Linked DNA regions of Homo sapiens. The protein of the gene in region 1 interacts with the protein of each later gene in a pairwise test. Each region holds a gene or a part of one and is shown in the gene's direction. Other genes may lie near its edges.

Region 1 (5,681 bases):
AGGAGGCCTGGCCTGAGCCAGGTTGGAGCTTAAATTGCTGTTGGCTCCTGCCTGGTGGAACAAGGGGGTCATAGAAACCAGGGCTGATGGGCACCCCCCAGCCCCTGGGAGCTCTGCTCATGACCGCTCACAGGGTACCGAGTCTTTGCCTTTTGTGTGTGCGCATGCTGCCCTCTTAACTGCTTTTAGTATTCAGAAAGGTTCCATTTATGTTTTACTCCTGAAAGTGAAACCCTCTTAGGCAACTTGTTTCATATTCTGGGCATTTTAGTAGCTACAGTATTTTGCATTTAAAATGTAATTACTCTTAGTATTGTACAGCCCTATAATGTATGAGAACTAGTTTCACATCCTTTGAAACTAATCTCTTTCATTGGGGAGGATACAACTTTTGACTTTACACAGGTGGACTTTGAATCCATTTTTATAGAATTTTTTTCCACTGTAACTTGACCTATATTATGCAAGAAAATCCCAAAAATATGTTTTAAGGGAGACTACACAGACCTTGTGATTTGGTCTGAGCTAGTTGCTGAGTTGACTGGAGCCTTATTTGAATGGATCTTTGAGTTGAGATCTTCACACTGTCAGTGAGCCCTTGGCTCAGCCCTTGTCACCTGTTTGTATGGGGACCATGTTTCCCAAAGCTCAGGTTCATCTCCACTATTGACAGAGTCGGGTAGTGGGAGAGTATAAGTGACTTGAGACAGAGTGTCCTTGCTCAGAAAACTGTGAAGCAGGGGTCTTGTTAGTTACAAAGCCAGTCCTAGTTGCATGTCCAAGGGGGTAGATTTTCATCACCCTACTAAATGTGGTATGTCACTGCTGAAGCCTTTTCCTGTTTTAGTAATATCTTAGGCACTATTGTCTTTTGTCTTCCAGAGTAACATATCTGGGCCCACCTTTCTTGCACACTGTGATTATGTGCTAAGAAAAGGGTGGAGTTGGGAGGACAATTTCACTTGAACAGGTTTCTGTTCTTCTGAGGTCAGGGTGGGGAGGATGTCCAGGTGACTTTTATGGACACATTGCAAGACAGTAAGCCGCGGATGGACTCTCACTTGTGCTTTGGAACACTGGACTCCAAAGAGCAGGTGGAACAAACTCTGGCCTGAAGATGATGGCTAATACTCAGGCAGAGCCCCGTATTCTTCCCTGACTTGGTCAAAACAAACTTCCTTTTCCCTTGATCACCCTGCACGCAGCTGCCCAGCTTCCAGTTTTTAAAGAGATGAACAGCTCTCACTTCCTGACTCAGTTTCTCTTGTTGGGTGGGGGCCTTGTGCCACAACCTGCATGGGGTGCTAGGGTTTAAACCAAGTGGTCACGAAGGATTCTTATCTCAGGGCTCTGCCTGGCCCACCTTCTCTTGGGCCTGGACTCTCCTTATCCACATCCCTGCAGAAGGTGGGCCCTATTCTCAGAAGAGTCCTGGCTGCTGTTGCCATCTGAATGCGCCCTTCCCTTTCAGGTTGACCAGCAGTGGCCTTACCTGGCCTCTCAGGTGGATGGAGGCTGTTCTCATCTGGGGCTGTCTCTTGATTAAGGCTGTCACCTGTTTGTATAGGGACCATGTTTCCCAACGCACTTTGAGTGCAGTTTAGGAGGTATCCTTTGGATGCTGAAGTGTTGGGATTTTGAGGACATGCGGATGATTTATGAGAATAGAGGGGCAGAGTTTGTGAAGTCTAGGGTTTTTTGTCCAGTGGGTTTCAAATTTGTTGGCTGTTTAAAGACCCTGTCTCCTCCCCCACCCTCCCCTTCCTTTTCCCATCAAATGCCTACCTACTGAGGCGCCTTCTCTTTTTATTCTTGAGCCAATGAGATATCAGTGTGTTTATTAATAAGGATTGCAATAGTATAGTGCTTAATATGTGCCAGGCATAGTGCTAAGGGTTTACATACGTTATCCCTTTTAATCCAGAAAACAGCCTTTGATTAGGTATTGTTGTCTCCATTTTATAGATGAGGAAACTGAGGCAGTATGACTGAGGCCGAGAGCAGTGGTTAAGACAGACTTTGGGATCAAATCACCCTAGGTGCGGGCAGGTTTCTAGGCTGCTCTAAGCTTCTACCTTGAAGGCAGTTGGGTCTGATAATAGTACCTTCTTCCTGGGGTGGTTGTGAGGATATAACGAGGTAATGCATGTAAGCATTTAGTACCATGCCTGGCACATAGTAAGCACTCAATAAATGGTAGTTACTTTTGTTGAGCTCAGCTGGTAGTTTGACCTCCGTTGGTGCAATGCCAGAGATGGGATTGTCAGCCACCACACTGCCACCACCCTGCACACAGTCTGGGTCCCTCCGAGAGAAGCACGCCAACCTTAACATCCCCTACAGCATCTTGGTGCTTCACACACCATTTAGGAGGCCACCCTAACGAGGCAAGAGGACATGGGGGTGTGCAGAAGTTCTGTTCTTAGTGAGAATGGCTGGCCTGAGAATCCAGCTCACCTCCTCTGCCCACAGTCTGGACTGCTTGTGGGAAGGCCATCTCCTCCTGTCTGGTGGTACCTCCACTCTGGGCAGGGAGGGCCTGTCTGTGACTCGCTCTGGACCCCACTTCCCGCTCTGGCCAAGGGCTGTCTTCTGTGCACATAGCTCAGGAGCCTGCAGCAGTTCCCTGTATGGGTGGATGTCCTCAGGGGCCAAGAAGAGAAGAATGGGGACAACAGAAACCTGCTTTGTAGGGGATTATGTAGACTAAAAGCCTAGAAGTTCTGCCCACATCCTTATGACGCAGCCAATCTGGAGCTTCATGTTTCCTTCTAAAAGTAGTAACCGGGTAGAAGTGGGTGACCCATTGAGGACACATGATGTGAGGTATTTCTGCCGGATTCTAGGTTAGCAAAGACTCAAATGGGTGACTCATGAATGAAGGGAGAACAGGCACAGGACTTAATGAAAAGAGTTTCTTGAACTTAGTTTTCTGAATGGGGGTGGGGAGTTGGGGCACGTGTGTGTAAGGGGAGGCTGCCTCACTTTGAAGGAATGGTGTTGGCTAACAGGATCCATGAAATTCCTAGGTCAGTTGAATAATAACTGAACTACTGGTTTGACTGTGGATTATTTCCTGGGTATTAGTGGGACCCAACAGCACATTGCTATTAATAGTATGGAAATAATGGTCCCTCTGTTTCATTGAATTGCTGAAGTAATGATAATGCCATGAACCAGGAGAAGATGGTTGTGGGGGTTTCTAGGAAGCAGCTGCTGTGACAGGCCAATCCCAGGCTTGCCCCCGAGCCCTCCTGTCCTTCTGGGTTTGTGTTTGCCTTGCCTGGTGCTTCCTCCCTCATTGTGTTGTTGAATAGACCTAGGCAGCCTTGTATCCATAGAAAGCCTCCACTGCTGGGCCGGGGAGGGGGTTGTGGTAAGGGCCCTCTGGAAATCAAGCAGAGAATGCCTTTGCAGTGGTCTCCCGGGCATTGGGCAGGGCCTAGCCTTTTGCAGCCCCCAGAGGACCTTGCCTGCATAAAGCACTCAGAAGGGTTAGCCACCTGGTGATTTTGTCTCTAGTGAAACTGTGTTTGCCGATAATCATCCACATAGCCACCTCTGTCCTCGCAGTTTGGATGCCTTTTTTTGACACCTGCGCTAGGTTCTTGTATGCTGGCTTTTCTTAAAGGAACAGCAGAGTAGAAAAGAGGTTGAGAATGTTTTCTAGCAGGCAGAATGTGCATACATGTTTTCATGAGTGTCCTTTGGGTGCTGTTTCTTTTAAATCCTCTGTGCACAGGGCTCTGGCCTTTAGTAAACTGTTTTTCTGTCTTACGTCATGCTGACTGGGTGCTAGGGGCTGATTACAAAGGGGAAGAGTTGAACAGACATCAGGGGCCGATGAAACCAAAGGACTAGGAGTCAGGAGAACAAGTCAGGGATTAGGAGACAGCGGTTTGGTTTATTGTTATCCAGCTGGAGGACTCCTAGGGGCAGCAGCAGGAGGAATACCAGGGCCACGGAGGGGCCAGGAGTCTCACAGTGGAGGGCAGACTCTAACAGATGCCAGCTGAACGCTCGCTGGCCCTGGATGTCATACGAGTTGGGGACCAGAAATCTGGGCTCAGAGAACCCGTCCAGGGAGATTTGAAGCCATGGGTTATCTTCTAGAGTTGATACTGATAATATATTTTAATTTTTATTGATGTTTAATACCTTCTGAAACAGGAGGGTAAGATCAGATGGGAAGCCCCTCTGTTGAAGGATCTTGGGAACCTTGGTGGTTTTTTTTTTTTTTTTGGTTTTTTTTTTTTGATCGAGCTGTGGACATCCTTCTTAATTCGATTCTGAGGATTTGTTTAACTAAAAAGTTCCCAAACACAGAAAGGGCCTCCCCACCTGCTTTGGGGAGCTGTCTGTGCTGGGAGTGCCAGGCATCCCATGGGACCCATCACTGCCAGTGTCTGTGCCTCCCAGAGGTCAGCCGTGTCTGCCCTGGCTCTGTCTCCTCTGTGACAGGGCAGAGCATTTCTGGTCAGTTTCTCCATGGTGCCTCCCACCCCTTTGTAAAGTGGATGGACATGATGGAATTCAGTTGTCTCACCCTGATAGCCTGGGTGTTGATATTCACTTTACCCGCACTCAGACACAGGCGACCTTGAAGCAGTTCTCGGTGTGTAGAGTCCACGTGACAGTCCCCACAGCCTCCCCAGATAGCTGTGTGCCTGTGCGCTACTGCTGTGCCATTTTCCCAACTTGGCGTTTCACTAAATGCAGCTGATCTCTCTCTCTGTGCACTCGTGATCCATGTTGAACAATACATGTAGGTTCTTTTTCCACGCAATGTAAGAACATGATATACTGTACGTTGGAAAGCATTTACCTTATTTATATACCTGAATGTTCCTACTACACAAATAAACATATATTAAATTCTAGATCATGTGTGGTTTTCGATGGTGGGGGTGGCGGAAGGCCAGGGGTGTGGACGTTTGGTTGCTTATGTGGAGCCAGCATTATTTCCCAGGATGCTGCTGACCACCGCTTGCTTCTAGAGACTCCCTCTGTCCTTGGCCTTGGCAACCTGCCCCCCCGGCTTTCCTCCTGCCCTTGGTTGCTCCTCCTCGGTCTTCTTTCTGGGTGTCTCTTTTCTGGGCCATCCCTTGGGTGGTGGCATTCTGCCTGAGGCTCTCTTTCGCCCACTGAATTCTCCCCTCTAGGTGTTCCCACCCCCTCCCAGGATCCTGATCACCACACTCATTTCAACACTTCCCAAGTCCATGTCTCTAGCCCAAGTGGGCCTGCATTTCCAGCTGCCTGTGAGGCCTCTCACACAGACTTTGCATGATAAAACCCAAACCTATGACCCATGTCCTGAGTCCTGTGTTCTCTAACTACCCATGTGTTCTGTCACACAAGCCAGTAACTGGAGTGATCTCATCAGTCACCCAAGCCTGCCCGTTCTGCCTTCCAAACATCCTCGGAATCATCCTTACTGCCAGCCTTCTGGGCCAGGCCCCATCTCCTGCCAGGATTTCTAAGGCAGCCTCTAGCCCTCTCCCTACAGCCTGGCCACCTCTCTAATCCATTTCTTGCATGATAGCTGGGATGAGCTCTCTGCTTGGAACCCTTTGGGTCTTGAGGTTAAAGTTCAGACTTGGTAACGAGGCTTCTGGGGCCATCTGTGAGCTGGCCAGTGCCTGACCCACGCATTCGGGCCCTGCCTTCACAGCCACAGC
Region 2 (4,757 bases), on another chromosome or scaffold:
GATGATTAAAAAAAAAATACTGCCGGGCACGGTGGCTCATGCCTGTAATCCCAGCATTTTGGGAGGCCGAGGTGGGCAGATCACCTGAGGTCGGGAGTTCGAGACCAGCCTGACCAACATGGAGAAACCCTGTCTCTACCAAACATACAAAATTAGCCGGGGATGGTGGCGCATGCCTATAATCCCAGCTACTCGGGAGTCTGAGGCAGAAGAACCGCTTGAACCCGGGAGGCAGAGGTTGTGGTGAGCCGAGATCGCGCCATCGCACTCTAGCCTGGGCAACAAGAGTGAAACTCCATCTCAAAAAAATAAAAATAAAATAAGTAAGTAATACCTAAAATTCTGCAACCTTCATTTTACTATAGATGGTTGAAGATTATATTACTTCTTAATTGTTTTAGCCTTGTTATTGCTTCATTACTTCATGGTTGTTGAGTACAGATGCTCAGTAATCATAACCTATGAAATATTTGACACCATGATCTAAACATTAAAAACAAATAACTGTGCTATTGCCACAGCTATGTTTTGGCTTTGAATTTTCTTTACTGAATATTTTGGATCAAGAACACTAGATGAGAAACCTGTTCAACTCTGTTCTTTTTTTTTTTTTTAACTCCACTGTATTTATTACCTGTTTTTGTTTTTTTTGTTTGTTTGTTTTTGATGTGCATATAGACCAAGATGTGGTAAATTTAAATGGCAGATGTTTTTGATGTGGTACATTTAAGGGAGAGAAAGCAGTTTAAAGAGCAGGGTGAAAAATCCAACAAGACTCCATCGAGAGTTTCTGAGCTCTCCCATCAGGGGCCAGTCCTCCTTTCCTCTCTCCTCTTACTCCCATGATTTCCAAGTTGTGATCCTTTCCTTATTTCTGAGGAATGACTTGGTTTCTCCTCTTCTTTTTTTGGCCTGAGAGAAGATGTTTTTGCACTTGTAGCTATGAGGAACAGATTGTCCACTAGGGAGGCCAGCTGATCATTTTCTGCCAGAGTCACACAGAGCAGTCACACCTTATTTTGAAAACCACTGTCTGGGGTCTTTGTCCTCACATATGCAGGTCTAGTGTCCCCACAAAGTGATCAGATGGATATATAAAGTGGAGTGCCAATGTATTAATTTACTGTGAGAAACACAATTGCTAAGTGGGTCAGATATCTGTCTCAGCTGGTCAGTACACCTTCCAGCAGGAAAATCTACATAAGAACAACTAAATCACAATCTGTAGAGTGCTTGATGACCCCAGAATTGGTGCAAGGGGACACATTCTTGCTTGTTAGCACCTGCTCTCTGGAGTTTGCTATTTTCTCACACACAGTGTATTAGTTCACAGAATGTTCTCCAAGGAGGACAGGGGGCTTTGCCCATAGCCATGTGCTGTGGGCAGCAGAGCTAGGAAGAAGCACAGGCATCTCCCAGCCCAGGTGTTTCCCACTTAACTGCATTGCCCTTTTCATCTTTTTTTTTTCCCCAATAGCTTCAGGACATTCAGTACATTGTGCTTTTTAGAGGTTGATGATTCCACTGCCTGAGCTGCCTTCACCTCTCTTTCTTTGGAAATTGCCATCTTTGAGCATTGTATGTCTCTGTAACATCTCTGCATCTCCTTTTCACTCTGGCCTCCCTTTCTCCATTGTCCTTCTAGCTTCTGGTTGCCCCAAACCCCACAGACTGTGTAACAAAACCCAAAACCTATTGGTTTAAAACAATACCCATTTTATTTTCTTTCATAGTTTCTATGGGTCAGGAATTTGGATATGGCTTGGGTAAGCAGTTCTGGCTTCTCATGGAGTTGGAGGCAAGTGGTGGCTGGAACAGAAATGGGGCAGCCAGGGGTGGTGGCCAGGCATCAGCTACATCTCCTCCATGTAGTCTCAGGAACTCTCCATGTAATCTCTCTGTGTGGGTTGGGCTTCCTCACAACATGGTGGCCTCAGGGCAGTCACTGCTTACATGGCAGCTAGCTTCCCTCAGAGTGAGTATCCCAAGAGATCACAGTCAAAGTGCATAGCATTTATATAATCTAATCTTGGAAGTCACAAAATGTCATTCTTGTGATACTCTCATTGGTGAAGAAGTCATAAAATCCTGCTCAGGTTCAAAAAGAGGGTGTATAGAACCCAACACTCAATAGGAAGATTGTCAGAGTTACATTGTAAGAAGAGCATGTAGTTGGGAGATATCATTGTGGCCATTTTGGGAAAGATGCAACATGTCACAATGTCATGTTCTCCATCGTCTCCCCGTTCCACCTTGTACTGGTTTCCAAGGGTAGTCGTTTAAAAGTACCACAAAAACTGGGTGGCTTGGAACAACAGAAATTTATTGTTTCACAGTTCTGGAGGCCAGAAGTTCAAAATGAAGTGTTGGCAGAAACATGCTGCCTCTAAAGGGACTGGGAAAGGATCTGTTCCAGGCTTCCCTCCTATCTTCTGGTTGTTCCTTGCCTTCTGGCTGCGTAACTCTAGTCTTCATTTGGTGTTCTCCCTGCATGCATGGCTTTGTGTCCAAATTTCCTTTTTTCATGAGGCCATCAGTCATACTGGATTAGGGACCCACTCTACTACTGCAGGATGACCTCACCTTCCCAAATTACATCTGCAACAACCCTATTTCCAAAGAAGGCCACATTCTGAGGTACTGGGGGTTATAACTTCAACATGAATTTTTTGGAGGAAACAATTCAACTCCTAACACATCTCTACCCAACCTCTGTAGGTTCCCTCAATCCACCAAAATTTTTTGGCTCCACTGGATTATCTAGCAGTTAGGAAACCAAGATCATTAAATGAATTCACCGCAACTACAGTGAGACTGACTACCTTAGCTTACCTCTGTGAAAGGAGTTAAGCCAAAGGAATCTGTGGAATTTTGGAGAGTTTGGGAGCATTTGGGGGCAGGAGGCAAATGTTCTTCCTTTAAATCACAACACTTAGTTCTCTTCCATTTATAAGACTCACCCCTCCATCCCAACCCCTGCACCACAGGACAAGGAAGTGTTCTTGGTCTTCAACTTTCATCCCTGATGGTGAAAGCAGTTGCTCCTGACCTATTTGCCCACCAGCTTCTCCTCTGGAGCCTGAGGCTTCTGATGCCTGCCTGGCTGGTTCTCAGTAAGAAGGTCAAGTTCAACCAGAGGGGAGATGCTGATGCCTTTCAGTACTTAAATATGAGTTCAGACCCTGGGGCCTGGACATAAGATTTGGGGTCCCCTGGATATAAGATTTCTGAAAACACTCAGACTGTGGAGACCCCTGCTGAGGGAGAAGCCCCAAACTGTGGCTTCAGGGGAATGCACCAAGGCTCTCATTGAGGCCACCTTCTCCAACAAGCTCCCCTCCTGCTTCCCCATGGCTGGCATGGCTGAGGAAAAAGGACACTGAGCACAGCCCGTGCATGAGCGGCTTGCCATGCAACAGGATAAAACCCATAATGCCACTCAGCAAGCCTTGGTTGTAAATCTAGTTTGATTACATTTGTAATCAAATGATGGCCATTTGTTCTGTTTCTGGTTTGTGAACCAACTGAAGACATAAGCAGGGCCTCAGCTAACCCACAAATAGCACATGTGTGCAAACTGGAAAAATGAACCCTTCTTCTGGGAGGACGCCAGCCCAGGCCAGGTCACCCGGCTTGGCCAGCAGAACACAGAGTAGATTTTGGTCCCGTTTGTTCCCCAGTGGGGTATCTATCCTTGTGCAGGGCACAAGCCTACATGGTGGCTCTGGTCATATCATTAGAAAATAGACAGAAATGGGCTGCACACCAGAATGAATGAATTGAATTGAAAGGGAGGAGTGATGGTGGAAAAAAAAACAAGTCAATTCATTTAGACTGGTAGAACCAGAACCACTGTGTAGTACATCCAAACGGTTAAAATTCCCTGGAAGATGTTACATAATCCTATCATGGTGTTTATTTATGGAAATCTATTTTAAAAATTTTATGTAATACTGCACAGTCTGTTTGCATGATGCCTTGTACGTAGTAGCAACTCAGTAAATACTTTTTGAATGAACTAGTATAGTATTTTAATTAGCTAGTCTTCATGTACTGGTACAAAAGAACAGTGTCATCTTACAGCTGAAGTCATAGAGGGGAAATATCCCACTCAAGATCATATAACATTCCAGGTACTCAGGATGAATGGTTTGAGGACTGGTCTGAATTCTTCAAAGGTTTCAGCTGTATTAACATTCTCCATCTAATAAACTTTATCTTGTCATTGCATTGTCTGTGAGATTAGTGATCTGAAACATTCCATCAATACCCCCACCCCACCCAACACATACATATTAAAGACAAAGATAGAATTCGGAGGTTCTTATGGGAGGTACTGTTTTTCTCGAAGGCTATGAGAAGAGGTGCTGAGAAATGAGTTCTCAGCCATCTTGGGGGCCCAAATATCTGAAACCTTCCAGAAATGTAACTAGTCTGAATTTGCTTTTCTGTCACCATTTGGGTATTTGGTTAATGAAAGTTCTTAACATGCAAATTCCACCCACTCTTACCAATGCCCTGAGCTGGGAAGCACCCTGAGCACTCTTACCACACCCTGAGCTGTTGCTTTTCCTCTCCGCCTTGCCCCCACTCCGTGTTGGCTGCACCAGCAGAGGCTTCTGCATTTGCCCCTGGGCGGGAGTTGGGTATGAAGGTCTGGGCCAGAAGGTTCTGAGTCCCTAAGCTGAGCTGCTGGGTGGCAGCTGGAAGGTCAGGCTGGCTGAAGCCCTGGCGAGGTGACACTGGGTCTGAGGCAG

What was found.
Region 2: the proteins of CDS2 (region 1) and MR1 interact in binary tests that used the Homo sapiens proteins (3 or more experiments, as listed by UniProt).

Annotation. Positions count from the first base shown.
Region 1 is NC_000020.11:5,193,008-5,198,688, forward strand, and holds the end of CDS2 (phosphatidate cytidylyltransferase 2), read left to right. Parts: 3' UTR 1-4,880; downstream 4,881-5,681. UniProt on the Homo sapiens protein: Catalyzes the conversion of phosphatidic acid (PA) to CDP-diacylglycerol (CDP-DAG), an essential intermediate in the synthesis of phosphatidylglycerol, cardiolipin and phosphatidylinositol.
Region 2 is NC_000001.11:181,057,709-181,062,465, forward strand, and holds the end of MR1 (major histocompatibility complex class I-related protein 1 isoform 1 precursor), read left to right. Parts: 3' UTR 1-4,230; downstream 4,231-4,757. UniProt on the Homo sapiens protein: Antigen-presenting molecule specialized in displaying microbial pyrimidine-based metabolites to alpha-beta T cell receptors (TCR) on innate-type mucosal-associated invariant T (MAIT) cells.